Homo sapiens: one gene and its partners. The protein of the gene in region 1 purifies or fractionates together with the protein of each later gene. This does not show direct contact. Each region holds a gene or a part of one and is shown in the gene's direction. Other genes may lie near its edges. The genes, in order: POLH, UBE2B, PLD1, DHX16, POTEI, SPRTN and SART3.

The links.
Region 2: the proteins of POLH (region 1) and UBE2B purify together in Homo sapiens (affinity purification with western blotting; one study listed by BioGRID). This does not show direct contact.
Region 3: the proteins of POLH (region 1) and PLD1 purify together in Homo sapiens (affinity purification with mass spectrometry; one large-scale study listed by BioGRID and IntAct). This does not show direct contact.
Region 4: the proteins of POLH (region 1) and DHX16 purify together in Homo sapiens (affinity purification with mass spectrometry; one large-scale study listed by BioGRID and IntAct). This does not show direct contact.
Region 5: the proteins of POLH (region 1) and POTEI purify together in Homo sapiens (affinity purification with mass spectrometry; 2 studies listed by BioGRID and IntAct, with this or other methods). This does not show direct contact.
Region 6: the proteins of POLH (region 1) and SPRTN purify together in Homo sapiens (affinity purification with western blotting; one study listed by BioGRID). This does not show direct contact.
Region 7: the proteins of POLH (region 1) and SART3 purify together in Homo sapiens (affinity purification with western blotting; one study listed by BioGRID). This does not show direct contact.

The regions. Positions count from the first base shown.
Region 1 is NC_000006.12:43,603,089-43,607,406, forward strand, and holds part of POLH (DNA polymerase eta), read left to right. Parts: intron 1-803; coding exon 804-923; intron 924-1,526; coding exon 1,527-1,650; intron 1,651-2,165; coding exon 2,166-2,231; intron 2,232-4,318. UniProt on the Homo sapiens protein: DNA polymerase specifically involved in the DNA repair by translesion synthesis (TLS). Due to low processivity on both damaged and normal DNA, cooperates with the heterotetrameric (REV3L, REV7, POLD2 and POLD3) POLZ complex for complete bypass of DNA lesions.
Region 2 is NC_000005.10:134,381,123-134,385,440, forward strand, and holds part of UBE2B (ubiquitin-conjugating enzyme E2 B), read left to right. Parts: intron 1-4,318. UniProt on the Homo sapiens protein: E2 ubiquitin-conjugating enzyme that accepts ubiquitin from the ubiquitin-activating enzyme E1 and transfers it to a E3 ubiquitin-protein ligase. In vitro catalyzes 'Lys-11'-, as well as 'Lys-48'- and 'Lys-63'-linked polyubiquitination.
Region 3 is NC_000003.12:171,677,381-171,681,698, reverse strand, and holds part of PLD1 (phospholipase D1), read left to right. Parts: intron 1-4,004; coding exon 4,005-4,133; intron 4,134-4,318. UniProt on the Homo sapiens protein: Function as phospholipase selective for phosphatidylcholine. Implicated as a critical step in numerous cellular pathways, including signal transduction, membrane trafficking, and the regulation of mitosis.
Region 4 is NC_000006.12:30,666,066-30,670,383, reverse strand, and holds part of DHX16 (pre-mRNA-splicing factor ATP-dependent RNA helicase DHX16), read left to right. Parts: intron 1-3,056; exon of another isoform or gene 3,057-3,199; intron 3,200-3,570; exon of another isoform or gene 3,571-4,318. UniProt on the Homo sapiens protein: Required for pre-mRNA splicing as a component of the spliceosome. Contributes to pre-mRNA splicing after spliceosome formation and prior to the first transesterification reaction.
Region 5 is NC_000002.12:130,461,226-130,464,730, reverse strand, and holds part of POTEI (POTE ankyrin domain family member I), read left to right. Parts: intron 1-586; coding exon 587-1,915; 3' UTR 1,916-3,505.
Region 6 is NC_000001.11:231,340,795-231,345,112, forward strand, and holds part of SPRTN (DNA-dependent metalloprotease SPRTN), read left to right. Parts: intron 1-4,318. UniProt on the Homo sapiens protein: DNA-dependent metalloendopeptidase that mediates the proteolytic cleavage of covalent DNA-protein cross-links (DPCs) during DNA synthesis, thereby playing a key role in maintaining genomic integrity.
Region 7 is NC_000012.12:108,537,164-108,541,481, reverse strand, and holds part of SART3 (spliceosome associated factor 3, U4/U6 recycling protein), read left to right. Parts: intron 1-2,392; coding exon 2,393-2,548; intron 2,549-3,278; coding exon 3,279-3,417; intron 3,418-3,886; coding exon 3,887-3,994; intron 3,995-4,318. UniProt on the Homo sapiens protein: U6 snRNP-binding protein that functions as a recycling factor of the splicing machinery. Promotes the initial reassembly of U4 and U6 snRNPs following their ejection from the spliceosome during its maturation.

The DNA.
Region 1 (4,318 bases):
CCTCCTGGGCTCCAGCAATCCTCCTGCCTCAGCCTCCCAAGTAGCTGGGAGCACAGGCACATGCCACCATGCCCAGTTAATTTGCTGGAGTACAGTGGCACAATCTCGGCTCACTGTAACCTCTGCCTCCTGGGCTCAAGTGATCCTCCCACCTCAGCCTCCCAAGTAGCTGGGACTACAGCTACATACTACCACACCTGACTAATTTTTTTGTATTTTTTTTGTTGAGACAGGGTTTCGCCATGTTGTTCAGACTGTTCTCAAACTCCTGGGCTCAGGTGATCCACTCGCTTCTGCCTCCCAAGTGCTAGGACTACAGGAGTGAGCCACTGCACCTGGCCTTAATTTTTTTTTGTAGAGTTAGGGTCTTACTTTGTTGTCCAGGCTGGTCTCAAACTCCTGGACTCAAGCAATCTTCCCGCCTTGGCCTCCCAAAGTGGGATCATAGGTGTGAGCCATTGTGCCTGGCCAGATTATATATTCTTAAGTAAAGTTTTAGCCATGGAAGGGATTTATTTTGTGTTTGGGATTTTAATCCCCAAACAGGACAGCAGGCGTTGTACAATTGAACGTTTTATATACAGTTTACTTGATAGTTAATCAAGGACTTTAACCTTTTGGTTATGTTATTTTTAATCTTCTTCTCAAATTCTAACTCCCAGAGTAACTGAATTCCCAGAATATATGCTCTCATTTGTCCTGAACCTTTTGGAGAGCTGTTTACAAAGTAGAATGTCTTACGTTTGCTGCTAATTAGATAGTTATGATGTGACCTATCAATTCTTTGTCTCCTTTGTTATCAGCCGTAGTCTTGGAGGAAAGCTAGGGGCCTCTGTCATTGAGATCCTAGGGATAGAATACATGGGTGAACTGACCCAGTTCACTGAATCCCAGCTCCAGAGTCATTTTGGGGAGAAGAATGGGTAAGTGATTCATTTTTTTTAAAATCATAACCTTTATGGAGATGCTATATTCAAATATAGACAAAACCATCTAGTAAAATCCAGACCTATCTTTAGGTTAACATTTGTTTCTTGAGATTATTTCACTGGTTCTTCTTGCTTCAATATCTTGGGTCACTATGGCCCATCAGTCTAGAGTAGTTTTTTCCATGTACCTAGGTGGTTGATAGATAAGATTTGTTACTTTGATGCCTGAGTATATACTAATTACATCATTCATGCATGCTGAGATGCTATATTCTCTTAAAATCCTTGTGTTTAATGCCCTAGCAAGCACACACACATTTTGGGATATGAATCAGTGGCTTGCTTGGCATTTTTCCAAAAATACAAATGATGACTTGGCTTTAGAAGACAAAACCAGTGTTCTCATTGTCCATATATTGCACTGGAATTCACTGAGAAGGGCAGGGGTTTCGTCAGAGGTCCGGTACACTAAATTTTGGACAAGGTTTTCCTTTTTCATGAAAAAGATAAAAGGGCAATATAATATAGTTATTTGGTTTTGTTTTAACAAGAATAATCATTTAATTTCACCTTAACGTTTTTTGCTGGTCTTATTAGGTCTTGGCTATATGCCATGTGCCGAGGGATTGAACATGATCCAGTTAAACCCAGGCAACTACCCAAAACCATTGGCTGTAGTAAGAACTTCCCAGGAAAAACAGCTCTTGCTACTCGGGAACAGGTAAGCTGGCATTCTTGACAGAACACTACCTCTTTTAAAGGGGTCAGTGGGTAGGTTTTGGTAGCTGTGGAAGGTTTAATAGGTTAGAGGAGACCTTTATAAAGTATGAAGAAAACAGATGTTCTGTCCTTGGGTTGAAAATTGACTAGTTTATGATTATTACTTTTTTCTCTTTCGTCTATCGAAATAAAATGGAATTTCTCATTTGTTTAGTAGATGGAGACTTGGAAAGCCTAGGATATTATGCTTCAAGTTTGGGTCTTGTCTTTTTCTCAGAGCTGGAACATGCTTGAAAGTCACCTGATGGCAAACAAGCAGGAAAAGAAAATGAAAGGCTTGAGCTAGGGCAGGACAGAAGGACTGGGAACATTTCTATGATCTGGTGATCCTTTGATTATGGGGAGTCTTTGGTGCACAATTCTGTTTGGGAGAAAAAAAAGAACAAATAACACCATCTAGTTCTTAATAGACTTCGAGTGTTTAAATGAAAGATTAAAGTCTCAATACTTTTTTAGGTACAATGGTGGCTGTTGCAATTAGCCCAGGAACTAGAGGAGAGACTGACTAAAGACCGAAATGATGTAAGATTTTCTTTCTTTATTCCTGGGGTGGGCTTTGCAATTTACATATCAGCTGCTCTTTACCTTATGGAGCAGGAACAAAGACAGAAAAAAGTATTAGCATAGGAAATATCCGTTTTCTTTCTTTTTTTTTTTTTTTTTTTTTTTTGAGACATGGTCTCACTCTGTCTCCCAGGCTGAGTACACTGGCACAATCATGGCTCACTGCAACCTCTACCTCTTAGGCTCAAGCTCTCCTCCCAACTCAGCCTCCTGAGTAGCTGGGACTACAGGTGCATGCCACTACAACTGGCTAAATTTTTTTATTTTTTGTAGAGACAGGGTCTTGCTAGGTTGCTCAGGCTGGTCTTGAACTCCAGCCAAGGAAATTTTAAGAAATCTTTTTAAATTTTTTAATTTTTTAATTTTTTTTTGAGACATAGAGTTTTCCCTCTTGCTGCCCAGGCTGGAGTGCAGTGGCATGATCTTGGCTCACTGCAACCTCCGCCTCTGGGTTCAAGTGATTCTCCTGCCTCACCTTCCCAAGTAGCTAGGATTACAGGCACATACCACCACACCCGGCTAATTTTTTGTTTTGTATTTTCAGTAGAGACGGGGTTCTACCATATTGGCCAGGCTGGTCTTGAATGCCTCACCTCAGGTGATCCGCCCACCTCAGCCTCCCAAAGTGTTGGGATTACAGACATAAGCCACCACGCCCAGCCAGTAGTGGCAGTTTTAAGCACATTTTATTGTGTATATTTGATGTTTACAACATGATGCTATGGGATACATATAGTAAAATGGTTACTATAGTGTAGCAAATTAACGTATCTATCATTTCACATACTTTTTTGTAAAAAAAAAAAAAAGTAGTTAAAATCTACTTAAAATCTCTAATAGAATTTTATTAACTATAGTCCTCACTTGTACATTAGCTCAATAGACTTGTTCACCCTACGTGTCTGCTACTTTATATCCTTTTACTTACATCTCCCCATTTCCTCCTCCCCTCCCCCATCCCAGGTAACCACTGTTTTATTCTCTATCTCTGTATATTTGACTTAAAAAAAAAATTCTGAGCATTGTACATTTTTCTTTCTAATGTTAAAGACATCTGATGATTAGTTTCTCTCCTTTTTTTTTTTGAGACTGAGTTTCGCTCTATCGCCCAGGCTGGAGTGCAGTGGAGCAATCTTGGCTCACTGCAACCTCCACCTCCCAAATTCAAGCGATTCTCCTGTCTCAGCCTCCCGAGTAACCGGGATTACAGGTACCTGCCACCATACCCAGCTAATTTTTTTATTTTTAGTAGAGACGGGGTTTTACCTTGTTGGCTGGGCTGATCTCGAACTCCTGACCTCAGGCGATCTGCCCATCTTGGCCTCCCAAAGTGCTGGGATTACAGGCATGAGCCACCGCACCCGGCAGTTTCTCTCTCCTTTTTAAATAGCTTTATTGACATATACTTTACATACCACAAAATTCACCCATTTAAAATAATTCAGTGGTTTTAGTATATTGCAGAGTTCTACAACTATTCTACAATTTTAGAGCATTTTTATCACCCCCCAAAAGAAATCCTGTGCCCATTACCAGTCACTCCCCATTTCTCTCCCAGCTACTCCCCAGCCCTAGGCAACCACTACACTGCTTAACTGTTCTGGACATTTCATATAAATGTGGTCTTTTGTGAAAATATGTGGTCTTTTGTGACTGGCTTGAAGTCTTTCACTTAATATGTTTTCAGGTTCAGCCGTATTGTAGCATGTATTAGTACTTAGTCATTTTTTGTTTGTTTTGTTTTTGTTTTTTGAGACGGAGTCTCGCTCTGTCACCAGGCCAGAGTGCAGTAGTGCAGTCTCGGCTCACTGCAACATCCGCCTCTCCAGTTCAAGTGATTCTGCTGCCTTAGCCTCCCGAGTAGCTGGGATTATAGGCACGCGCCACCACGCCCAGCTAATTTTTGTATTTTTAGTAGAGATAGGGTTTCACCATGTTGGCCAGGGTGGTCTCAATCTCATGACCTTGTGATCTTCCTGCCTCAGCATCCAAAAGTGCTGGGATTACAGGCGTGAGCCACTGCGCCCGGCCAGGACTGACACCTT
Region 2 (4,318 bases), on another chromosome or scaffold:
CGCCTGGCTAATTTTTTATATTTTTAGTAGAGACGGGGTTTCACCATGTTAGCCAGGATGGTCTCGATCTCCTGACCTTGTGATCTGCCCACCTTGGCCTCCCAAAGTGCTGGGTTTGTTGTGGATTTTTGGTTTGTTTCTTATTTCTTCAGAGACAAAGTTATACTCTGTCACCCCTGCTGGAGTGCAGTGGTACAGTCACAGTTCACTGTTACCTCAAACTCCTGGGTTCAAGTAATCCTCCTGCCTCAGACTCCTAACTAGCTGGGACGACAGGTGTGGACCACCATGCCCAGCTAATTTTTTTGTTTGTTTTCTTTTTCTTTTTTGTAGACACAAAGTCTCTGTGTGTTGCCCAGGCTGGTCCTTGAACTCCTAGCCTCAAGCAGTCCTCCCACTTTGACCTCCCAAAGCACTGTGATTACAGGAATGGGCCATTTTTTCCAGCCTTTAGCTATGTTTCTGTAGCTAGACTCTTACAAAGCTTCCAAATTTGAGGTCAAGTTGTTTTAATAACTCCTGAATTAAAAGTAATACATGGTCGGGCATGGTGGCTCATACCTATAAACTCAGCACTTTGGGAGGCCAAGGTGGGCGGATCACCTGAGGTCAGGAGTTTGAGACCAGCCCGGCCAACATGGTGAAACCCCATCACTACTAAAAATACAAAAATTAGTCAGGCATGATGGTGGGCACCTGTAATCTCAGCTACTCAGGAGGCTGAGACAGGAGAATCACTTGAACCTGGGAGACGGAGGTTGCAGTGAGCTGAGCTCACAACACTGCACTTCAGCCTGGGTGACAAACCAAGACTCTGTCTCCAAAAAAACAAAGGTAATATGTAAGCCAGGCACAGTGGTGCACACCTGTAGTCCCAGCTACTCCAGAGGCTAAGGCAGGAGGGTGGCTTGAGGCCAGCCTAGGTAACATAGTAAGATCCTGTCTCTACTAAAAGAAATAGATAAAAGTATTATCTATTTATTTGTGGAATTGTGAAAAATAAGAAAAATCTGTTGGCTAAAATTAAGCTTTTCAAAAATACAATTTTGGCCAGGCGTGGTGGTTCATACCTATAATCCCAGCACCTTGGGAGGCCAAGGTGGGAAGGTTGCTTGAGACCAGGAGTCAGAGACCAGCCTGGGCAACATAGCGAGGTCCCATCCCTATAAAAAACAAAAAAAATATCAAGGCATGGTGGCGCACACCTGTAGTCTCAGCTACTTATGGAGGCTGAGGTGAGAGGATCACTTGAGCCCAGGAGGTCAAGGCTGCAGTGAGCCATGACTGTGCCACTGCACTCTAGCCTGGGCAACAGAGCAAGATTCTATCTCAAAAGTACAATTTTGCATATACAAAGTTGGAGTCAATGACCACACACAGTGGTTCATGCCTATTAATTCCAGCACTTTGGAAGGCTGAGGAGGGTGGATTGCTTGAGCCCAGGAGTTCAAGACCAGCTTAGGCAACATGGTGAAACCCTGTCTCTACAAAAAATACAAAAATTAGCTGGGCACAGTGGTGCGTACCTGTATTCCCAGCTACTAGGGAGGCCGAGGTGGGAGAATTGCTGGAGCCTGGGAGGTTGAGGCTGTAGCAAGCCATGATTGTGCCACCGCTCTCCATCCTGGGTGACAAAGCAAGACCCTATCTCAAAAAAAAAAAAGAAAATTGGGATGTTATATATAAAATAAGGTGTTTTTTTTGGTTTGTTTGTTTTTGTTTTTTTAATATACTGTGAACATTTTCCTTAATAAATATTCTGGGCTGAGTGCAGTGGCTCACGCCTGTAATCCTAGCACTTTGGGAGGCCAAGGCAGGTGGATCATGAGGTCAAGAGATCAAGACCATCCTGGTCAACGTGGTGAAACCTCATCTCTACCAAAAATACAAAAATTAGCTGGGCATGGTGGCGCATGCCTGTGGTCCCAGCTACTCGGGAGGCTGAGGCGGGAGAATTGCTTGAACCCGGGAGGCGGAGGTTTCAGTGAGCCAAGATCGCGCCACTGCACTCCAGCCTGGCAACAGAGCAAGACTCCATCTCAAAAAAATAAATATTCTGATACATCATTTTTAATGGCAAAATGTTCTGTTACATAGATTTATCATATTTTTAACCAGTGTCCAATTGTTGATAGTTTTCAGTTGTTTACAATTTTAAATAGCACTTTGAACATTCTTAAAAATCTTAAAAATTTTTTTGTTGTTGAGAAAAACACTTGCTGTGTCACACAGGCTGGAGTACAGTCGTGTGATCTCGACTCATCGCAACCATTACCTCCCGGGTTCAAGTGATTCTCTTGCCTCAGCCTCCTGAGTAGCTGGGACTGCAGATGTGTGCCACCATACCCAGCTTTTTTTTTTTTTTTTTTTTTTTTTTTGAGACAGAGTCTTGCTCTATCGGCCAGGCTGGAGTGCAGTGGCATGATCTCGGCTCACGGCAACCTCTGCCTGTTGGGTTCAAGTGATTCTCTTGCCTCAGCCTCCCAAAGCTGTATATCCAGCTAATTTTTATATTTTTAGTAGAGACGGGGTTTCACCATGTTGGCCAGGCTGGTTTTGAACTCCTGACCTCAGGTGATCCGCCTGCCTTGGCCTCCCAAATGTTGGGATTACAGGTGTGAGCCACCGTGCCCGGCCTCAAAATAAATCTTTTCAGATACTAATTATTATTTTGATTGAGTTTTTTGTTTGTTTTTTTAATTGCTGCATAACAACTAGACTAAGTTTTTTAAACGTGGGGATTACTGGGTCAGAGGCTTGTGTGTTTTTAAAGCTTTTAATGTCATTTTCCATTTTTTTCCTTCAGTGGAATTGTTCTCATTTTCACTTCATAGAGTAGTTTGTTACTATTCTTCACTAAACGATGGCTAATTCCTTTGTAATAAATTTGGTCTTCCTTGACATCTTGCTGTTTACATCTATTACATTTATATTTCTGTATTATAAATTACCATGTGAAAGACTTCTCCAAATTCTTGAAGCTCCTCTTCAGTCTCACAGCCTTTGCTCATTTAAATGTGGCGTTCCCCATCAGCCAACTCACTTTCAGGAAGAACATTTTCAGAGGTCCTCTTGGTCGTGTCTCTAGTACTGCAGAATACATTATAGAGCTCCCTACCCAGAGGAGAGATGTGTTTCGTTTGTGTCTGGAATCAAGGTGACTTTCCAGTAATAGATACTACCTTTGGCACTTCATTTCTGTGAAGTTGCTTTTTCCTTCTAGCTGCCTTTTTTGCTTTTTTTTTTGTCCAAGACAGGTTTAATTTTATTTTCTGTTTCTCTTTTTGGGGAAGTTCCCAGGTCATTTACCATTTATTCCACTGTAGCTTTATCTTGCTTAGACTTGTTATTGAGTCAAACCAAACCAATTATGATAAGGGGGTCTTTAAATAAAGGTGGGAAAGACTGTAGAATGAGTAAGGGATATAAATATAGGGTTATCACTTAAGCAAATTTTTAAGAAACCACAGTGTATTTGGTTTTCACATCTCTTCATATTTATAGCATGGTTTCCCTTTTATTCTGCTGAGTACTTTTTTATAATTTAACTTTCTGGTTTATTTTTTTAAAAACATTTATTGAAATATAATTTACACACCAAGCTGTTGACCCACTTAAATTGTACAACTCAAATGGTTTTTAGCATAATCATAACCATCACCATGACCACTTTAAAAACAACAAAAAGCCCCATAACTATTATCTTAGCAGTCAACTCTGTTTGTCTTAACCCTCCCCGCTTCAGTCCTAGGTAAGTGTTACCCCTAACGTGTTTTCCCTCTAGATTTGACTATTCTGGATATTTCATATAAATGGAATCTTATACTATGTGGTCCTTTGTGACTGACTTCTGTCACCCAGCATAAAGTTTTCAAGGCTCATCTATGTTGTGATATAATAGTATCTGTGATTCATTTTTTATTGTTGAATAATATTCCACTGTATGGATATTCTGTATTTTGTTCATTAGTTGATAAGATATTTGAGTTCTGATTTACTTTTGGATTCTCAGAAATAGTTACTCAGAACTTTAAAATTGTTTTACACTTTTATGGGTTTTACAGAGTTACTAATTTTTGCTTTGGGCAGCTAAGTTTGATGTTTCTGTGGGATGGACAGTAAGTTGGCTTTGAAGCTGAGAGATAGATCTAGGCTAAGGCCAATGATTGGGAATACTGAGCACATGGATGGTAACTGAGGCCACAGGAGTCAATAGGATTGCCCAGTGTGTGTGTAAAGGGTAAGAAGGAAAAGGGCTTAGGATAGAGTCTGGAAGAATCACAGTGTTTAAGTGTGATTTGCTCCCCACTCTCTGTTA
Region 3 (4,318 bases), on another chromosome or scaffold:
GATACTCCTACTGCAAGAGTCATCATTGATCCACAGACGAAATACAGGTCTACAAACCCTTAACCACGATTCTAAATTCCAAAAAATTTTGAAAACCAAAATATTTTTTAAAATATAACTTGTTCAGTGCCTGTATTGGAACTGGCCTTGAACATATGTAGAAATTCGGTAGGTAGAGACTAAAAAGGTAGAAAAACAGGCATTTTAGGTAGATACTACATCTTAAGACCCAGATATAGGAAATGCAAAAGTATTTATTTCGGCATCTCAGACTGAGTGTAGAATGTGGTAAATACATATAGGTCTATAATCTCTCATACAAAATCCTTGGAATCAGATTTCAGAAATCAGAAAGTTCTGGATTTTAGAAAGGTAATACAATACCTATACCCTCTACTATATTACACTCCCAGCAGGATCCAGGAAATACCTGGAATGTAGGCAAACCATTTATGTTTGTGCAACACCAAGTGGGATCAATAAAGATAATAAATAACCTCTTGTCAGTTCAGGTCAGATTTTGCTGACCTGTGAGTTATGAAATGAGCTGTGAAAATCAGCTATGAAAAAACATTTGAATTGTTAGAACTTTTGGAGTTTTGGAATTGTGGTTAAGGGCTGATTTGTGCAGATTGAGCTGGTGGGATATATCTGTAGCAGTTTACGGAGGACTTTGAAAATCAGACTGAGACATTGCACCTCTTCCATTAAATGTTGGAAAATCCCTAGGGGCAGGGAGCAATTAAGGGTGAGGCTTTATAGCGTTTATAGTAGAGACACAGGGAGTCTGACAAGGTTGTGTCAGTGAGTTCAAGAACGAAGTAAATGGGAGAAACTTTTTCCAAAAGCAGAATCAGCAGATTTTCATCATGATCTGGGAAGCCGTGGGGAGGTGGGTGGAGAAGTCAGCGAAGAATAAAGGAGCCAAAGGTGATTCCGAGGTTTGAGCTTGAGTTACTACACACAGACAGCAGAAATCTCAAGGAAAGACTTGATTTTATGGAATGATGATGATTTTAGTGTTAGACATAATTTTAAAGTTCTGGAGGGAACTAGGTAAACAATGTCAAGTGAGGCACTGGAAGTGACCTTAGATTTGGAGTCCAAAACAGAAGCCATCCTTGCAGGTGCACATTTTAGAAATTGTATAGAAAAAGACAGGAGAGGCCGGGTGTGGTGGCTCACGCCTGTAATCCCAGCACTTTGGGAGGCCGAGGCAGGCAGATCACGAGGTCAGGAGTTCGAGATGAGCCTGGCCAACATGGTGAAACCCTGTCTCTACTATCAAATACAAAAATTAGCAGGGCATGGTGGTGTGCGCCTGTAATCCCAGCTACTCGGGAGGCTGAGGCAGGAGAATTGCTTGAACACTTGGCCCTGGGAGGCAGAGGTTGCAGTGAGCCGAGATCGTGCCACTGCACTCCAGTCTCAAAAAAAAAAAAAAAAAAAAAAAAAAGAGGAAGAAAAAGAAAACAAAAAGACAGGAGAAAGGGGGAAACCTTGTTAGTGAGGAGGAGCTAGGAAAGAAGAACAAGGATAGGCTGGAGAAATGGTAGAAAAATGGAGACCTGGAAGCCGAGAGATGAGAATAGAAGGAGGAGGATGTGGCACGACCAGAGGACACCAGGCAAGGAACAAGAAGTCCCCCTTCTCATAAACTTTAGTAGCCAGAATCTGAGCCACTGACAGAGGAGGATGCAGAAAATTGGCCTGACAAATCTGTGCCAAAAGACAAGGCAGGTGCAATTATGAAATCATTTGGGAGCCAGATAGCAGCCTAACGAGACCCCCTTGGATCAGCATTGTTGATGCCATAAGTCCTCTCGACCACACTCATGTAATTCTGAGCTACTGTTTTCACAGGAACTAGTATTTGGCTCTATTGCCTTAATAGTTCATTTGTACTGAGGAGGAACCCTAATTTATGTGGAATAGTTTTTAGGCCATGGCTAAAAACAAAAACAAATTTGAATTATGAGCAGGTTGAATTCAATTAGTACCAAGATAATTTCCTGAGACTAAGAATTTCCTTTATTTTCCTTATCATAACTGGTTGTTAGGTGAAAGATAATTTTTAAATGAGTGTATATGTGTTTATGTAAAGCCTTAGCTTAGAGTTTTGCAGTTGATGAAAGCAAATTGTATATGTGTATTTTATATTTGAAATTTGAAATATTGTTTATCTCATTTTTCATCCCTTTTGTTTCTTTTCTCACCCTCTTTTCTTCTTTTAACAAAGTGCTATGTAAACAATAAAGAGCCTATAGATGAGCAAACAGACCTACCCGTACTTTGGCCTTTCAGTCTCATAAAGCAGGAAAATAAATCACTGGGAGAAGTCAATAGAAGTCTATTTTTAACATGATTTCATTTTGCTAATCTATGGCATTTTAAATCATTTTTCTTCTGTAGAAAACTTTAATAGCCTTTGAAAGGTTAATGATTCAGTTTGAGATAGAATATTAGCATTGTGTGTGGTGATTACATAAAAACATTTGTTCTGCAAATATTTATTGATTGCCTGGGTGCTTGGAGCTACTGGCAGTGAGAAGATTTGGTTCCCACTCCCAAAGAGTTTATAGACTGGTGAGGCATTGATGCGGGCAGGGGAGCATCCTGATACAATTGCGTCACAGAGTCAGAGGTGTTGGGGCAGTTGTTAGTGGGATGACAGCAGTGCTAGTGACTGCCTCTTCCTTATGGGGAGATGGCAGGTGATAGCTAATGTGGCTCTTGAAGGATGATTAGGATATCAGGCCAAGAGGGAGAAAGGAGCATTTCAGGTAGAAGTAATAATGTGCCAACTGCATGGAGACATGGCAGTCCACACCTGTTATAATACAGTGAAACACGTGATTTGCATGGGGCCTGGGGTTGGGTGGGGAAAAACAAGGACTAGAAAGATAGATTGGCACCAGTTTGGGAAGAGTCTTCTATGCACACTAAGCCCTTAGGACTTGAGCTTCCTATAGGCAGTATGTGAACCTTCCAGGGTTTTAAGCAAAGAGTGCATTTTACAAAGACAGTTCTGGGACAGTGTGTTGGTGGCAGGACCAGTGTAGTCCTCTCACTGGCTACTGCAAGCAGTACCATTTATTCATTCAACACATATTTTTGCATTCAGTGTCTATTTGTTAAATGCCTCTTTTGTGCCAAGTGCTGCGTTTGTGATTTGTAATTCTGCATCTTTTTACTTCATTGTCTTTGTATTTAGCCGTAAGTCAATGGTCTCGGCACAGTTATTTGTGAAATGCTATAGTAGATTGCTGCTTTTGCACCTATATCATAAGCTTTCATCTGTTGTTACCATATTTTTTATAAATGCCATCTATGATTTGAAGTATATAAATGTTAAAGCGCAACAGATTTTAGCTGTTATCTAGGCCAAATTCTTCATTTTACGCATAATGGATTTATGATCTAAAAAACTGAAGCTCAGTGTCACTTAGCTAATTAATTCCAGGGCTGGAACATGGGCTATCTGTAAATTTGAGGTTCTTGCTTTAATGCAAAAGAATTATGCATCAGGTGTGCACCATGTTGGTTGAGGAAAAAGAAGTGGCATGGTGTCTTTATTGCCCCTGCGTCTCAGGTTTCTCCACCTCTCCCCTCCCCGCCCTTCCCACTCTGCCCCTGAAAGCCCCCCACCAGCTTTACTGCTCTCATAGTGCCACCTTGTGAGTTCTTTATTCACAGTTAATTCTGTGATAGTTCTTCCAGTGATCTGGTAGGTGGTGGAAATAAGTTACTCAACTGCCTGAGAAGGTCAAATTTCATTGTTTAATGATGAATCTTGTTGTAGCCCTAACTGCCCACTAAAAGTAAACTTGTAAGGACTGTAAAACCTTGTTAGCCCACAGCCTGTAATAGAATGGACAGATGCCACCCTAGTTGTGTCTTAAGAAATTAAGAAGCTTTTAGGTGTTTAATAAATGAGAGTTGAGCCTCCCTTTCTGGGACTCACCTGAACCACAGTCTCTGAGGGGGTCTTGCTGCATTCACAGATACCGGGTCCATCCGTAGTTTACAGACAGGTGTGGGAGAGCTGCATGGGGAAACCAGATTCTGGCATGGAAAGGACTACTGCAATTTCGTCTTCAAAGACTGGGTTCAACTTGATAAACCTTTTGCTGGTGAGTATCATAATGGTGGGGTGCTGGTTATATTTTGTCTTTTACCTTTGAACATCTCAGCAAGTATACATGTGCATGATCTAAATGCCTTTTGTTTTGCTTCCGTTGATTTTTGAAAATTTTTTAAAACTTTGGAGACTAGATTTAGTCATTAGCATGTGCTTAAGGACTTTTTTTTCAGTTAT
Region 4 (4,318 bases), about 13 Mb from region 1:
GATCAGAAGACAAAAGGAAAGACTTTCTGATAGAGTGTATAGGGAGAGAGGATACAGAGGAAGCACAGTGTGGATGCTGATGGGGTGGTCAGGTTTCTAGAAGAGGGGCTTGGTTGTTAGGAGCCAGCTGAGGATAGACTTATGTTGTTGAGGGAAGGATCCTTCTTAAGTTGTAGGGGGAAGGAGGCTACCCATAAGTCCTCCTTGACTCTTAACTTTAGGATCAAATATACTCTATTAGTGAATGAAATTGTGAGCTTTCCCTATTCCTGAGTCCTAATGAGATATGAGGCAGCTGGAATGTTGTCAAGAAGGTTGCTGGAGGGCAAGGGCAGGGCAGCAGTCCCACTGTACAGGGATGTGCTGACCATTCAGCTTAGGCACACCATCTCCAAATACCTTCCCACCACCTAATTCCTGCACCCCTTATGTGGCTTTGTGATCTCCCTGTGTCTTCTCACTGGACAGGGACAGAGCCCTTGTAATTCATAAACTGGACTTTTTATGGTGTGAAACTAGGTAGGGTAAGCTGTTTTCCAAAGGCCTGGTCTTGTCAAGTAAAGTCACACTTAGATTCCCCAATACCCCAATAGAATTTTGAGACTCTTGAAGTTCCTTTTTTTTTTTTTTTTTTTTTTTAAACCTTTTTTCTTTTTTTTGAAACGGGGTCTTGCCCTGTCACCGAGGCTGGAGTGCAATGATGCGATCTCGGCTCACTGCAACCTCCGCCTCCTGAGTAGCTGGGATTACAGGCGCACACCACCACGCCTGGCTAATTTTTTGTACCTTTAGTAGAGACGGGGTTTCACCATGTTGGCCAGGGTGGTCTCGAACCCCTGACCTTGTGATCCACCTGCTTTGGCCTCCCAGAGAGCTGGAATTACAGGCGTGAGCCACCATGCCCAGCCTTCTTTTTATTTGTTTTGTTTTATTTTTTATTTTTATTTATTTATTTTTGAGATGGAGTCTCACTCTGTTGCCAGGCTGGAGTGTGGTGGTGCGATCTCAGCTCACTACAACCTGTGCCTCCCTGGTGGAGGAATCAAGCGATTCTCCTGCCTCAGCCTCCTGAGTAGCTGGGACTACAGGCCTGCAGTACCACACTCGGCTAATTTTTTGTATTTTTAGTAGAGGAGATTTCATCATGTTGGCCAGGATGGTCTTGATCTCTTGACCTTGTGATCTGCCCGCCTTGGCCTCCCAAAGTGTTGGGATTATAGGCATGAGCCACTACGCCTGGCCGTTTTTACTTTTTAAAATTCATTTATTTATTTTTTTGAAACAGAGTTTTGCACTTGTTGCTCAGGCTGAAGTGCAGTGGCGTGATCTTGGCTCACTGCAACTTCCACCTCCCGAGTTCAAGCGATTCTCCTGCCTCAGCCTCCAGAGTAGCTGGGATTACAGGCATGAGCCACCTCGCCTGGCTAATTTTGTATTTTTAGTAGAGATGGGGTTTCTCCATGTTGGTCAGGCTGGTCTTGAACTCCTGACCTCAGGTGATCCACCTGCCTCGGCCTCCCAAAGTGCTGGGATTATAGGCGTGAGTCACCACGTGCCCGGCCAACTTTTGGAGTTCTAAGAATGGCCTACTGGTTCCCAGGTCTCTCCTGACCAATTTATCTCATATCTCTTCCTGAAATTGACTGTGGTTAGGCTTCTGGGACATCTCAGTGCAGTTGTGGTGGTAGTGGTGTTACTGTTTTGGCCTGAATTTAATTTTTCGGGTTTTTTTTGAGACAGAATCTCATTCTGTCGCCCAGGCTGGAGTGCAGTGGCATGATCTCGGCTCACTGCAACCTCCGCCTCCCGGGTTCAAGTGATTCTCCTGCCTCAACCTCCCGAGCAGCTGGGACTACAGACATGCACTAGCATGCCTGGCTGATTTTTGTATGTTTAGTAGAGATAGGGTTTCACCATGTTGGCCAGTCTGATCTCAAACTCCTGACCTTTGGCGATCCACCCCCCTCGGTCTCCCAAAATGTTAAGATTACAGGCGTGAGCCACTGTGCCCAGCTGTAATTTTTCTTTTTCGATTACAAAAATATTTAAGCACATAGGGAAGTTGAAAGAATAGAACAAAGAACACTCATAGACACTATTCAGATTGAAAAATGGTTAATACTATGGGTAGTATTTGCATTGTAATTGTAAATGTGGTATGTTTTTTCTTTTCAGACCATTTAAAAGAGTCTTAGACATCATGGCGTTTTATCTCTAAGTACATCAGTGTGTACCTGCTAAGGATAAAGATATTGTCCTCTAAAATCAGAATGCTCTTGTCACAGTCAGGAAGTTGAACAGTAATTCTTATGTATCGACTAAGATCTCTCTACAATAAAAGATACCCTCATTACCCTCAAAATAACTTTAATGACTGCTTTTTCCTAACAAGAATGCAGTCAAGGTTCATGCATTGCATTTGGGTCTTAGATGTTAAGTTTGTTTCTCTCTCTGTCTGTCTCACCTTGCAGTGTCCTACATTCTGGATTTGCCTGATTCTTATCTTGTGGTGTTAAGTACTTCTCTGCCCTGTGCTTTCTTTGAAGCAGGAATTGGGTCTAAAGCTTATTGACACTCAGATTAAACAGTTGTGGCAGGAACACTTCTTGGGCGGTGATGTGCACTTCATATTATGTCATATCACGGGGACATACTATCCAGTTGTGTATCTATATATTAGTATTAATATCCTTTCTACCAATAGCCTTTCATCAAATGCTTTTAGAAGCCACTGGTAATCCTTTCCTGAACATGTTATTTTTATTGGGGATTGCAAAATGGTGATTTTTTTTTTTTTTTTTTGAGACAGAGTCTCGCTCTGTCGCCCAGGCTGGAGTGCAACGGTGCGATCTCGGCTCACTGCAAGCTCTGCCTTCCGGGTTCATGCCATTCTCCTGCCTCAGCCTCCTGAGCAGCTAGAACTACAGGCGCCTGCTGCCACGCCCGGCTAATTTTTTGTATTTTTAGTAGAGATGGGGTCTCACCATGTTAGCCAGGATGGTCTCGATCTCCTGACTTCGTGATCCTCTTGCCTCAGCCTCCCAAAGTGCTGGGATTACAGGCGTGAGCCACCGCGCCCGGCCGAAATGGTGATTTTTTGATTCTGTCATTCCTGTTACGTGTATTGGCTAGAATTTGTCTATAAAGAAGAGCTTTTCCTCAACAACTAGGAACAAGCTACAGTTCCTTCTTAAAAAGGGTAAATGTTTGTTTCCTTTTAAATACGAATTTTTAGAGTAAGGCGTTTGCTGTAACAGTCATTTCACTGGTGACAGATTTTTTTCCCTTGTTTTTTGTTTGTGTGTGTCAAATTGGACTCATGAATTTTTATTTTTCAGTATTTTATAATCTCACATCATTATTCTTTTTAATGCTCAAATGGCTCTGATTTTTTGCCCATATTAAAAAAAAAATCTATCTGGCTCTTCCATGGAAGGAATATTTGACTGTGGTACCCAGATTAGGTCATGATCATAAACTGCATTTTAAGTCTTTACAGAACAAACAAGAAAAGCCAAACAACTAAATAGAACCAGGCCCCTTAAGGGTAGAACAGCAGAGGGGCTTTTTTTTTAAAGATGCAGTTTTGTTCTTGTTGCTCAGGCTGGAGTGCAATGGCGTGAGCTAAGCTCACTGCAACCTCCGTCTCCCGGGTTCAAATGATTCTCCTGCCTCAGCCTCCCGAGTAGCTGGGATTACAGGTGCCCACTACCATGCCCAGCTAATTTTTGTATTTTCAGTAGAGACGGGATTTCACCATGTTGGCCAGGCTGGTCTCTAACTCCTGACCTTAGGTGATCCACCCACCTCAGCCTTTCAAAGTGCTGGGATTACAGGTGTGAGTCACCACGCCCACCCAGCCACCAGAGGGGCTTTGACCTTGCAGTAGAGGAAGTTGTGATCACAGAGAGGATGATGTCATAGTGGGAGGACTCCTGGCAGGAAAGGGCCTTATAGATATTGCCAGTTTTCTGCTGTCATCCATAATGTGTCCTGAAAAGTTTGTATCAAAGGTAAATGTGTAGAAACTAAGTGAGACACAGCATGGTGAAGAGAGGTTAGTACCAGAAAGCCAAACATCCCTGATTACATTTGCCTTACAGAAACACTCTGATGCTGTAGTCCTAACTTTTTATAATCAGTTTTTCTCCCTTCCTCAAACTACAGTCATTCCGTTTAAGACCAAAGAACATCTAACTGGGGCTGAAGATTGCCTCCTGTTGGCCCCCTCACTGGTTTCTATCTTTGTCTGAATTGTTTTCGGTTTGAGTCCTGTGCTTCTAAATGCTGGATTAGCCTTTTATTTTCCCCCTTTCCA
Region 5 (3,505 bases), on another chromosome or scaffold:
AGTGCTTAGATTTGACAGTTATAAATAAATGTAATTCTTATAACTGAGTATAGAAATATTAGAAATGTAGAATATCGGTAAAATGTTCTTCAGTAAAAGAACTTTAAGAACTTTGAGAAATTGCTTCTGTCCAAATATATGCATAGCTAAGGCTCTTAGGATGGTGTGGTTGATAGGTTAGATATCAGAGTGTAAACCTAATCTTAAAAATGTAGTCAAATTGTTAATCTTATATTTTATGCCTCTGGGTTTTTTGTAACTCAGAAAAAGGCTTTTTTAATTCTGGGATTCTTAAAAATCCTCTAGTGATTTATTTTTCATCGTCTTTAAATAAATATTTAAACTTTTAGGAATTTAGGAGCAGATTCCTAAAAGTTTAAATATTTATTTAAAGGCGATGAAAAATAAATCACTGGAGGAATTTACACTCTTATTAGGTTTGAAGTTTTGTCCAATTTTTTTCCAGTTAAATATCCACTATGGGGATTCTTTCATTATACAAATACATGTTATTTTTGAATTTCAGAAGAAATAATGATATGTCAATCTATTGAGTGCTAACTAAAAGTTCTCTTTGTTTACTTAGCTTTCTCTTAGTTGTAAGAAAGAAAAAGACTTCTTGCATGAAAATAGTACGTTGCGGGAAGAAATTGCCATGCTAAGACTGGAGCTAGACACAATGAAACATCAGAGCCAGCTAAGAAAAAAGAAATATTTGGAGGATATTGAAAGTGTGAAAAAAAAGAATGATAATCTTTTAAAGGCTCTACAATTGAATGAGCTCACCATGGATGATGATACCGCCGTGCTCGTCATTGACAACGGCTCTGGCATGTGCAAGGCCGGCTTTGCGGGCGACGATGCCCCCCGGGCTGTCTTCCCTTCCATCGTGGGGCGCCCCAGGCAGCAGGGCATGATGGGGGGCATGCATCAGAAAGAGTCCTATGTGGGCAAGGAGGCCCAGAGCAAGAGAGGCATCCTGACCCTGAAGTACCCCATGGAACACGGCATCATCACCAACTGGGATGACATGGAGAAGATCTGGCACCACACCTTCTACAACGAGCTGCGTGTGGCCCCTGAGGAGCACCCCATCCTGCTGACCGAGGCCCCCCTGAACCCCAAGGCCAACCGCGAGAAGATGACCCAGATCATGTTTGAGACCTTCAACACCCCAGCCATGTACGTGGCCATCCAGGCCATGCTGTCCCTGTACACCTCTGGCCGTACTACTGGCATCGTGATGGACTCTGGTGACGGGGTCACCCACACTGTGCCCATCTATGATGGGAATGCCCTCCCCCATGCCACCCTGCGCCTAGACCTGGCTGGGCGGGAACTGACTGACTACCTCATGAAGATCCTCACCGAGCGTGGCTATAGGTTCACCACCATGGCCGAGCGGGAAATCGTGCGTGACATCAAAGAGAAGCTGTGCTATGTTGCCCTGGACTTCGAGCAGGAGATGGCCATGGCGGCCTCCAGCTCCTCCCTAGAGAAGAGCTACGAGCTGCCCGATGGCCAGGTCATCACCATCGGCAACGAGTGGTTCCGCTGCCCCGAGGCGCTCTTCCAGCCTTGCTTCCTGGGCATGGAATCCTGTGGCATCCATGAAACTACCTTCAACTCCATCATGAAGTCTGATGTGGACATCCGCAAAGACCTGTACACCAACACAGTGCTGTCTGGCGGCACCACCATGTACCCTGGCATGGCCCACAGAATGCAGAAGGAGATCGCTGCCCTGGCGCCTAGCATGTTGAAGATCAGGATCATTGCTCCTCCCAAGCGCAAGTACTCCGTGTGGGTCGGTGGCTCCATCCTGGCCTCGCTGTCCACCTTCCAGCAGATGTGGATCAGCAAGCAGGAGTATGATGAGTCAGGCCCCTCCATTGTCCACCGCAAATGCTTCTAGGTGGACTCTGACTTAGTTGCGTTACACCCTTTCTTGACAAAACCAAACTTCTCAGAAAACAACATGAGATTGGCATGGCTTTATTTGTTTTCTTGTTTCATTTTTTGTTTTGTTTTTTATTGGCTTGACTCAGGATTTAAAAACCGGAATGGTGAAGGTGACAGCAGTCGGTTGGAGGAAGCTTCCTCCAAAGTTCTACAATGTGGCCAAGGACTTTGATTGTACATTGTTCTTCTTTTCAATAGTCATTCCAAATATTGTGAGACGCATTGTTTCAGGAAGCCCCTTGCCCTGCTAAAAGCCACCCCACTTCTCTCTAAGGAGAATGGCCCAGTCCTCTCCCTAGTTCACACAGGGGAGGTGATAGCATTGCTTTTGTGCAGATTACATAATGCAAAATTTTTTGAATCTTCGCCTTAATACTTTTTAATTTTGTTTTATTTTGAATGATCAGCCTTCGTGGCCCCCCTCTTTTGTACCCCAACTTGGGGTGTATGAAGGCTTTTGGTCTCCCTGAGAGTGGCTGGAGGCAGCCAGGGCTTACCTGTACTCTGACTTGAGGAGAGTTGGATAAAAGTGCACACCTTAAAAAAAATTGAGGAAGCACAGTATTTCAGTACAGTGGACAGCTTAGCATGTTGACAACTGAGAATAAAATGCTCAGTTCTGAACTGGACAATGTAAGACACAACGAGGAAACACCGGAAATGGAAATTCAATTACGTCATTGTAGACTGGCTGCTGCTCTACATGATTGTGACCAAAGTCAGATAGCTGAAAGAGACTTCTTTCCAGAGAACAAGACATGAACAGGTTTATTTACAGAAGACAATGAATTCTCATTTATCTCACCTAAAAGAGAACAGATTCTTTCTCAACAAGTCTAACGTAGACAGTAAAATCAACAGGCTAAAAATTAAGCTCCATGAAACAAGATAAAACTCTGAGAGAAAAGACGGGGCAGGCCGCCATCTTTCCCGTTCAGGCAACTTAGTCATTCCAGCCTGCGGGCTTTGGAGAGTACAAACCGACGAGGGACAGAAGAGATCCCACAGCACAGCATAGCTGCTTTACCAAATCATGGCCAGACTGCTTCTGTAAGCAGGCCCCTGATCCTGTTCCATCTCACTGGACAGGACCTCCCAACTGGGGCCTCCAGCTACCCCCACCAGCATTCCTTGGCCAATGGAAATGTGAAATGTTCCTGGGACAGAGCTCCCGGAGAGGGGCAGGCCCCCACCTTTGCTCTTTCGGTGACTAGCCATTCTGGCCTGCGGGCTTTGGAGAGCCCAAGCTGACAAGGGGTGGAAGAGGTACCTCAGCACAGCACAGCCACGCTACCAAAACGTGGCCAGACTCTTGTTTACGTCAGTCCCTGACCACATTTCTAGTCAGTGGGTGAAGTCTTTCAACCAGGGTCTCTGGCTACCTTGACTGCTGTTCTCTGGCCGACAGAGGTCTCAGGCCTCCCTGAGTCAGAGCTCCCAGGGGGAGGACCAGATTGTCATCTTTGCTGTTGGGGCGACCCAGGCATTTCAGCCTTAGGGCTTCAGAGTGTCTGAGGCGGACCAGGGGCTGAAGTGAACCCCC
Region 6 (4,318 bases), on another chromosome or scaffold:
TCTCAAAAAAAAAAAGAAAGAATTATCTGTACAAAAGAGCACAGTGGTAGTTTCTGAGCATGGGGTGGGAAGCATGTTAAAACATGCTTGGAGATGAGAGATGCTGTTTTTAAGGATAATAAAAGGCAATGGATTACATAACAGTGTGAATATACTCAACACTGAACTGTACACATAAAAATGGGTAAGTTGGGGAATTTTGTTAATTTTTTTTACCACAGTTTGTTTAAAAAGTAGCTACTAAATGTAAAGTGGTACAGTAGAAATACTTGATTAATGAAAAAGAACAGAGCTCAGATGATAAAGAGAAAGGTAGGTGTAAACAAAATATCAGTTAAATGTAAGTGGACTAAACACTCCATTAAATACATGGAATGGCATGCTAGATTAAAAGAGACATGCTTACAGTAAAGACACACTTATTTTAAGTTTAAAAGGATGAGGAAAAGTAATCATCCAAACACTTAAAAGCAGAAAACTATTGTGGCTATAAGGTTGAGTACTCATTATCCAAAGTGGGACCAGAAGTGTTTCAGATTTTTTTTTTTTTTACTTTGGAATATTTGCATTATACTTACTGGTTGAGCTTCCCTAATCCAAAAGTCCCAAATCTGAAATGGCTTTAGTGAGCATTTCCTTAGAACTTAACCTTTAATCATCTTGTAAGTGCTCAAAAAGTTTTAGATTTTGGAGCATTTCAGATTTTGGATTGTCAAATTAGGGATGTTCAACCAGTATTAGTATCAGACTAAAGACTTCAAGGGAAGAAGTTTTACTAGAGGAAAAGTGGGATATTTTATAATAATAAAATAATCTATTAAGCAACAATACATAATCTCTCCAAAAGTAATAACATAACTTTAAATTTTATGAGGCATAAATTAGCAGAAGCAAAAAGAATATACAATCAGGCTGGGTGCGGTGGCTCACGCCCATAATCCCAGCACTTTGGGAAGCTGAGACAGGCGGATCACTTGAGGCCAGGAGTTTGAGACCAGCCTGACCAACATGGTGAAACCCCGTCTCTACTAAAAATACAAAAATTAGCTGCGTGTGGTGACACAGCCTGTAGTACCAGCTACTCAGGAGGCTGACGCACAAGAATCGCATGAACTCGGGAGGTGGAGGTTACAGTGAGCCGAGATCACACCACAGCACTACAGCCTGGGGTGACAGAGCAAGACCCTGTCTCACTACAGCCTCAACCTCCCAGGCCCAAGCAATCCTCCCGCCTCAGCCTCCCAAAGTGCTGGGATTACAGGTGTCAGCCAAGACACCCAGACTCATACTTGAAGAATGTTAACACAACCTTCTTAGTAACCCAATGAATAAGCGGAAAAAAATAATACACATTTTAAAAAGTTGAACAGCATGATTAACCAAATCAGCCTTAGAAGGAGCCCTAACTGGAAGAGTTGCTTAATGAATATGTATTGGGTAAATGATTACATAAACACATGAGAAAAAAATGTTTTTAAGTAGTGGGTGAGAAGAGAATGGGGAATGTATAATAGTATCAAGTGAGCATTTCCTGTTGGCAGAAAGTTACAAAATGACATTTTCGTCAATGACAGGCCCCATATATAACAGTGGTCCCATAAGATTATAAGACCATATTTTTATTTATTTATTTATTTTTATTTTTTGTTTTTTGAGATGGAGTTTTGCTCTTGTTGCCCAGGCTGGAGTGCAATGATATGATCTCGGCTCACTGCAGCCTCCGCCTCCCTGGTTCAAGGGATCCTCCTACCTCAGCCTCCCAAGTAGCTGCGATTAAAGGTGTGCGCCACCACGCCTGGCTGATTTTTGTATTTTTAGTAGAGGCGGGGTTTCACCATGTTGGCTGGTCTCAAACTCCTGACCCCAGGTGATCCTTCTGCCTCAGCCTCCCAAAGTGAATGGGATTACAGGTATGAGCCACCATGCCCGGCCAGGACTATATTTATTTATTTTTTTTTTGAGATGGAGTCTCGCTCTGTTGCCCAGGCTGGAGTACAGTGGCGCATCTCCACTCACTGCAAGCTCCGCCTCCCGGGTTCAGGCCATTCTCCTGCGTCAGCCTCCCACATAGCTGGGACTACAGGCACCCGCCACCATGCCAGGCCAATTTTTTGTATTTTTTTTACTAGAGACGGGGTTTCATCATGTTAGCCAGGATGGTCTCAATCTCCTGACCTCGTGATCCGCCCGACTCAGCCTCCCAAAGTGCTGGGATTACAGGCGTGAGCCACCACACCTGGCCAAGACTATATTTTTATTGTACCTTTTTTCTTCTTTATATTTAGTTGCACAAATACTTACCATTATGTTGCACTTGCCTACAGCATTCAGTACAGTAACATCCTGTGCAGGTTCGTTGCCTAGGAGCGGCAGGCTATACTCTATAGCCTAGGTATATATACTCTATAGCCTAGGTATATACACTCTATAGCCTAGGTATATATACTCTATAGCCTAGGTATATATACCCTATAGCCTAGGTATATATACTCTATAGCCTAGGTATATATACTCTATAGCCTAGGTGTGTGTATATATATATATATATTACATAGGCTATACCATTTAGGTTTGTGTAAGTACACTCTTAAGATGTTTGCACAATGACAAAATTGCCTAACAATGGATTTTTCAGAACATATCCCTGCCAAGTGAGGCACAACTGTAGTTACCTAAATCATAGAGAAGGGGGTTCAGAAAAGGAACAGACTTTATCTGGTTGAGGAGGTCAAGAAAAGCTTTATAACTGTACATTTTGTTACTACCATCACCACTCCTGCTGCTCACTATTGAGCACCTATTGTGTGTCAGACTTTGGACTAAACGTCGTCTTTACCACAGCCATGCAAAATGAGGATATCCCATTTTAGGGATGAGGAGCCACTTGGAGCCTGTCCCAGGTCTCATGCTGTGATTGTGGGTTTAGGTTCCAGTTTCCCTGACTCTAAGGCTCTTGTTCTGTCCCCTTTACCATTCAACTCATCACTCCTGCGATTAAAACATGGAGAGGTGAGCATTAAAGGACGAATTGTACTTTTGACAAGCAGAGATAGGACAGGAGGCTACTCTTGGCAGAAAGCATGGGAATAATGTGAACAAAAGTGAGTTCAGACAACTGGGGGCATATTTAGGACTAGAGGTAGTTCATTTTAACCCGATAGAACAGTCATGGAAAACAGAGGTATTTTGGGACTGTGTTGTGTATAGATCCTTGAATTAAGACTAAATATGGAAAATGATAGATATTTAAAAAGTTCAGTACCATTTTCAAGATGTTTTTTAATGTTTAATTAAATTGAACCAAAAATCAGGAACCTAAATTTGTTTCTCCTTTATGAGAATAGATCTTTATCATTGCTCTAATTTAGAACATTGAGAAACTTTTGCAGTACCTTTCTTGAATTTGAGTCTTCTTCGTTGAGCGGCATTTACTTGAAAAATAAAGTTCTGGCTGGGTACAGTGGCTCATGCACGTAATCAGATAGATGGATTGCTTGAGCCCAGGAGTTGACCTGTCTGGGTAAGATGGTGAGACCTTGTCTCTACAAAAAATTGAAAAAAAATTAGCCAGGTGTGGTGACATGCGCCTGTAATCCCAGCTGCTCAGGAGGATGAGATAGAGGGATCCCTTGATGCCAGGAATTTGAGGCTGCAGTGAAATATAATCATGCCACTGCACTCCAGTCTGGGTGAAAAAGTGAGACCCCATCTCTGAGAAATAATAAGATAAATAAATAAAGTTCCTTTTAAGAGATACAGTTGATAATTTTTAGAGGGATATATGAATGACCAAGTTAAAATGTTTGATTCTCTCATTTTTCTGTTCAGCATAATTTTATAAGACTAAAATTCATTAATGACAGTCTAGTTCTTCTGATGGAAATTGTTTTTTAAAAAAATTATGGAGGATCATGAAAAAGGTATGTCTTTGAAGATCTTTCTGATTTTTGCTTAAAAAAATTATTTATATTTTTTAGAGCAAAAACCCCAGCAATCTTAAATGCTTTTGTTAATTTTGCACAGAAACTTGTGCATCTTTGGTGTGGAATGAGCAGTAGGTTTTAGTGTTTGTTTCAAGTTTTCATGATTTCTGAATCAAAACCCAAAAGCTGTAGAAAGCTATACACAAAGATGTCTTGTTCAGTGTCCTCCTCTATCTTGAACTCCTTACTTGCTGTAGGAGCTGTTAGTTTCTTTTCATTTTTCTGTTTTGCAAATATTTCTATTCATTTTTATTCCTCCTCCCCACCATACAAAATTTTTCTTACACAAAATACTATGTACATTCTTCTGTACTTTGTCTTTTTCTTTTTCTTTT
Region 7 (4,318 bases), on another chromosome or scaffold:
TCTTAAGTCTTATTTTAGGCTGTATGTGTTGCAGATTTTCTCCCCAGTTGTTTGTCTTTTCACTTCTTTTTTTTTGAGACTGGAGTTTCGCTTTCACCCAGGCTGGAGTGAAGTGGCGTGATCTCGGCTCACTGCAACTTCCGCCCCGCCAGGTTCAAGCGATTCTCCTGCCTCAGCCTCCCAATTAGCTGGGATTATAGGCCCTTGTCACCAAGCCCCGCTAATTTTTGTATTTTTAGTAGAGACGGGGTTTCGCCATGTTGGCCAGGCTGGTCTCATACTCCTGACCTCAGGTGATTCACCTGCCTCAGCCTCCCAAAGGGCTGGGATTACAGGCGTGAGTCACTGCAACTGCCTTTTCACTTTTTTATTTTTTAACAGTGTCTTTTGATGAACAGTTCTTAGTGATCAATTAGATTAAAATTCTTTCCCTTTTGGTTGTGCTTTTGTTGTGCTTATTTAAAAAATATTCCCTACTTAGCTCTAATTTCTTCTAAAAGTTTTATAGTTTTCTGTTTCATATTTAGGCCCTCATCCACCTGGGATTGATTTTTGAGTGGTATGAGACTGCGTCTGGTTTCATTTTTCCATATGGAGAACCAGTTGTTCTAGTACTGAGTTTGATCATTCCTTCTTCCCCTCACTGATGTGCAGTGCCACATCTGTCATAGATTAGCTGTCCATTTATGTGTGGGTCTTTCTTCTGGATTTTCTGTTCTGTCCCACTGGTTTATGTTACACTGTTGTAATGATGAGAGTTATAATGTTTTGCTCTTGGATAGGGTGAGTCCCATCCACCTTTTTCCTCTTCAAGAGGATCTTGGCTTTTTTTTTTTTTTTGCCTTCAATGCTTCCATCGGATTTAGAATCAGCTTTTCTAGTTATATTTTTAAAATCTTTTTTTTTTTAATTGGAATTGCATTGAACCTGGAGATCAATTTGGGGAATAATTTACATCTTCCAATCTATGAACATATATAGGTTTCTGCTACTTATATCTTGTCTTTCTGTAAAGCTTTATAATAATATTATAAATTTGTCCAGTGTCTTCAACACTTGACCTTTAGAGTCCCCTGCAAGGGAGATTTGCTGGTAACAGATTTTCTGTGTTCAAAAAGGTCTTTGCTTCCCTTCTTGAAAATTATTTTCTTAGGCTATAGAATTCTAGACCGACAACAGCAAAAGAATTCTAGACGGACAATGTGTCCTCTCAGCAATTGATTGTATCTTTCTGTCTTCTGATGTCTGTTGTTGCTGTTGAGAAGTCAGCGGTTTGTATAAATCTTGCTTCTTCAGAGGTAGTCACTTTTTTGTCTGACTGCTTTTAAGATCTCATTGATTTGGTTTGCTGTCCTCTAATTTCACTGCAGTAGGTCCATGTGTGGACTGGCTTGAAGTTTTTTGGGCTTCTTGACTCTTTTTTTCTATCTTTCTTTGCCAACAATAGGATTGTGAAGGTCAGATTCTTAATATACGTCAAGCCAGCAAAAGGTTAATGTTTACTTAGCTTGCCACCCTCATTTAGATTTTGTCCTTAGTCCTTAGTATTTCTTGTTTCTTTGCCAGTTTGTTGATGACTTTTAAGAAGATATTATATTTAATTTAGCAGTTTTAGTTGTTTTGAATGGTACAGTGTGTCTGGGTAACTAATTCTTCCTCGTTACTGGAAATGGAGGCCCTGAAACATCCCCTTTCTACATATGGAGTCTGTGTGTTCTCTTACTCTCCTGCACTGCTTCATCCTTTCTTTTTCATGTGTAAATGATTTGCATGTACCTGTGCTTCCCAAAACTTCGATCATTCAATTATGTCATGGCCATCAGCAAAATGTGCCTGAAGAGAAAACATGTCGAATAAGATTTTTTTCTAAAAAGAATTTGATTGTATGTCTTTGGATCATTAAACATTCAGCACAGCTGCCTTCATCTTCTGCATTTATCTACATTCTTCCAGGAACTGATATTTGGAATAAGAAACCTGAAATAGCATCAGGCACCAAAATTTTCCAGTTTGGTTGTATTAACTCTACTCAGTAGCCCAAGAACATGACTTCTGGTTTGGAAGGGTGGTTGACAGTGGTCACTGGCAAAGGTGTTGCTCTTTCACTCAGTTCCTGATTGATGGGCTACTTAATTCCCTGTGGTCTAGGAATGGATTTAGAAAAGAGTTTATGGAGCCTTTGTAGCGACTGCCATGAACTGGCACTTTGGACCAGATGAGAAGACTCTTGTTTTGCTCAAGAAGTTGTAGAGGCCATAGTGGAGTGGTTCTGAGAGTGAGGATTTGGCGATTCATAGTTACTGTAGCCAGTTTTGCCAAAATTTATTTTATTTGCAGATGTGTTGTGCTTCCTGCCAGTAACTAAATTCAATACAATTTTCCTGTACTCCAGTTGCAGGCAGAGGCACCAAGGCTGGCAGAATATCAAGCATATATCGATTTTGAGATGAAAATTGGCGATCCTGCTCGCATTCAGTTGATCTTTGAGCGCGCCCTGGTCGAGAACTGCCTTGTCCCAGACTTATGGATCCGTTACAGTCAGTACCTAGTAAGATCACTGTTCTAATTTCATTTTATTTTTGCCAATTTAGAATCTACTTAAAATCAGTAAGAGTGCCAGGAGTTTGTTGCATACGGCCCTACTCTTGCTTTTCCTCCATCTGCTTTTTCTCCTCTTTGCCAACTCGTTTAGAAAGTTTTAGTGTTTCAAGTTATTTAAAAATGGTCACTAACTGTAAGTAAAATGAGCATATTGTCTGTGTTGAGGACTTATAACAACTTGATATTTTTCTTTTAACTTTTTATTATGGCAAAAATGTAAACATATAAAAGTAGACAGATCAGTAAAATGAAACTTCTGTACCCCTCACCCAGCTTCAACAATTAGTAACATTTATAGCTTTAGTTTACTTTGATCTGTAGTCTCACCTACTTGTCCCTTCTGTGTTACTTTGAAGCAAATCCAGAAATGATATTTCGTTGGTAAATATTTCAGTATGTGTATATAAAATATTTCAGTGTGTCTGTATAAAAGGATCCAAATGAGGTCTATCCAGTAGGGTTGGCTGACGTCTTTTAAGGCTGTTTTAACCTGTAAGTTGCTCCTCTCCTTCTCCTCCACTCCCCTTAGTGATTTTTTTGTTGTTGTTGAGGAAACCAGGTCACAAGAGATGTTTATAAGGACATTTCTTTCATCACTTGGTCGTGCTGGCAATGTCTTGTTGATGGTGAATGCTTAATAAAGTGTAATTTCCTAACTCTGGAATTCTTTATCATAGGATCGACAACTGAAAGTAAAGGATTTGGTTTTATCTGTACATAACCGCGCTATTAGAAACTGCCCCTGGACAGTTGCCTTATGGAGTCGGTACCTCTTGGCCATGGAGAGACATGGAGTTGATCATCAAGTAATTTCTGGTGCGGATGTTTTTGTGGGAGAACTTCTAAGCTATTTGTCCCAAGTGAAAAACAGAGAGCGGTGACAAAGTCATTACATCAGTGTTCCCTGGGGTTTTCTTTGGGTTATGGAGTGTAGTGACAAAAAGGGCTCTGAGTGAGAGATGAACTGGTTATATTTGTGGCTTCTTAGAGCTTTTTAACATGCTAATATTCATTGTATTTTCTAAGAAGTTGTAGTGTTTTCTCCAAACTTCCTTGATCTGGAACTTTTCTTGCAGGGCGTCTTGTGGAAGAAGTTTTTTCTAGAACACAGTCTGTAGAGTGCTGTAGCAACTTCTGTCTTCAACATTCCTGTCTAGCTCATTTCATTCTGTTGCATCTATTAGTCTTTAAAGTCATGTAGTGTTTTATAGTCAGTAGAATGTAGTGACTTTCTATTAGTTTCCATTTGAATTGGTAACAAATCCTGACTTTTCTCCAACTCCAGTAACCTTCGAGAAAGCTTTGAATGCCGGCTTCATCCAGGCCACTGATTATGTGGAGATTTGGCAGGCATACCTTGATTACCTGAGGAGAAGGGTTGATTTCAAACAAGGTATTTAAGCACATGTTTTTCACTTTAGAGCTGAACATGTTCTTAATACAACTTTTGGCGAGATGTCCCAGTTCCCCAGATACATTGTGATTGGGCAAATGATGTAGACTAGGTATTGGTGACTTTTTCCCCCAGAAATCTTAGCAATTTCTGTCTTTAACAAGTCATGATGTGGATTGTAAAGCAAGAGAGTAATCGTTTATACTGGCTCCTGCCAGCCTTTTTAGTCTTAGCTCTCATTTCTCCTTTCAGGTCTTTTTATTTATCCTAAATACTTCTTGAAATAAGTCTGCTGTGTTTTAGAAAAATCTTTGTACCTCTGTG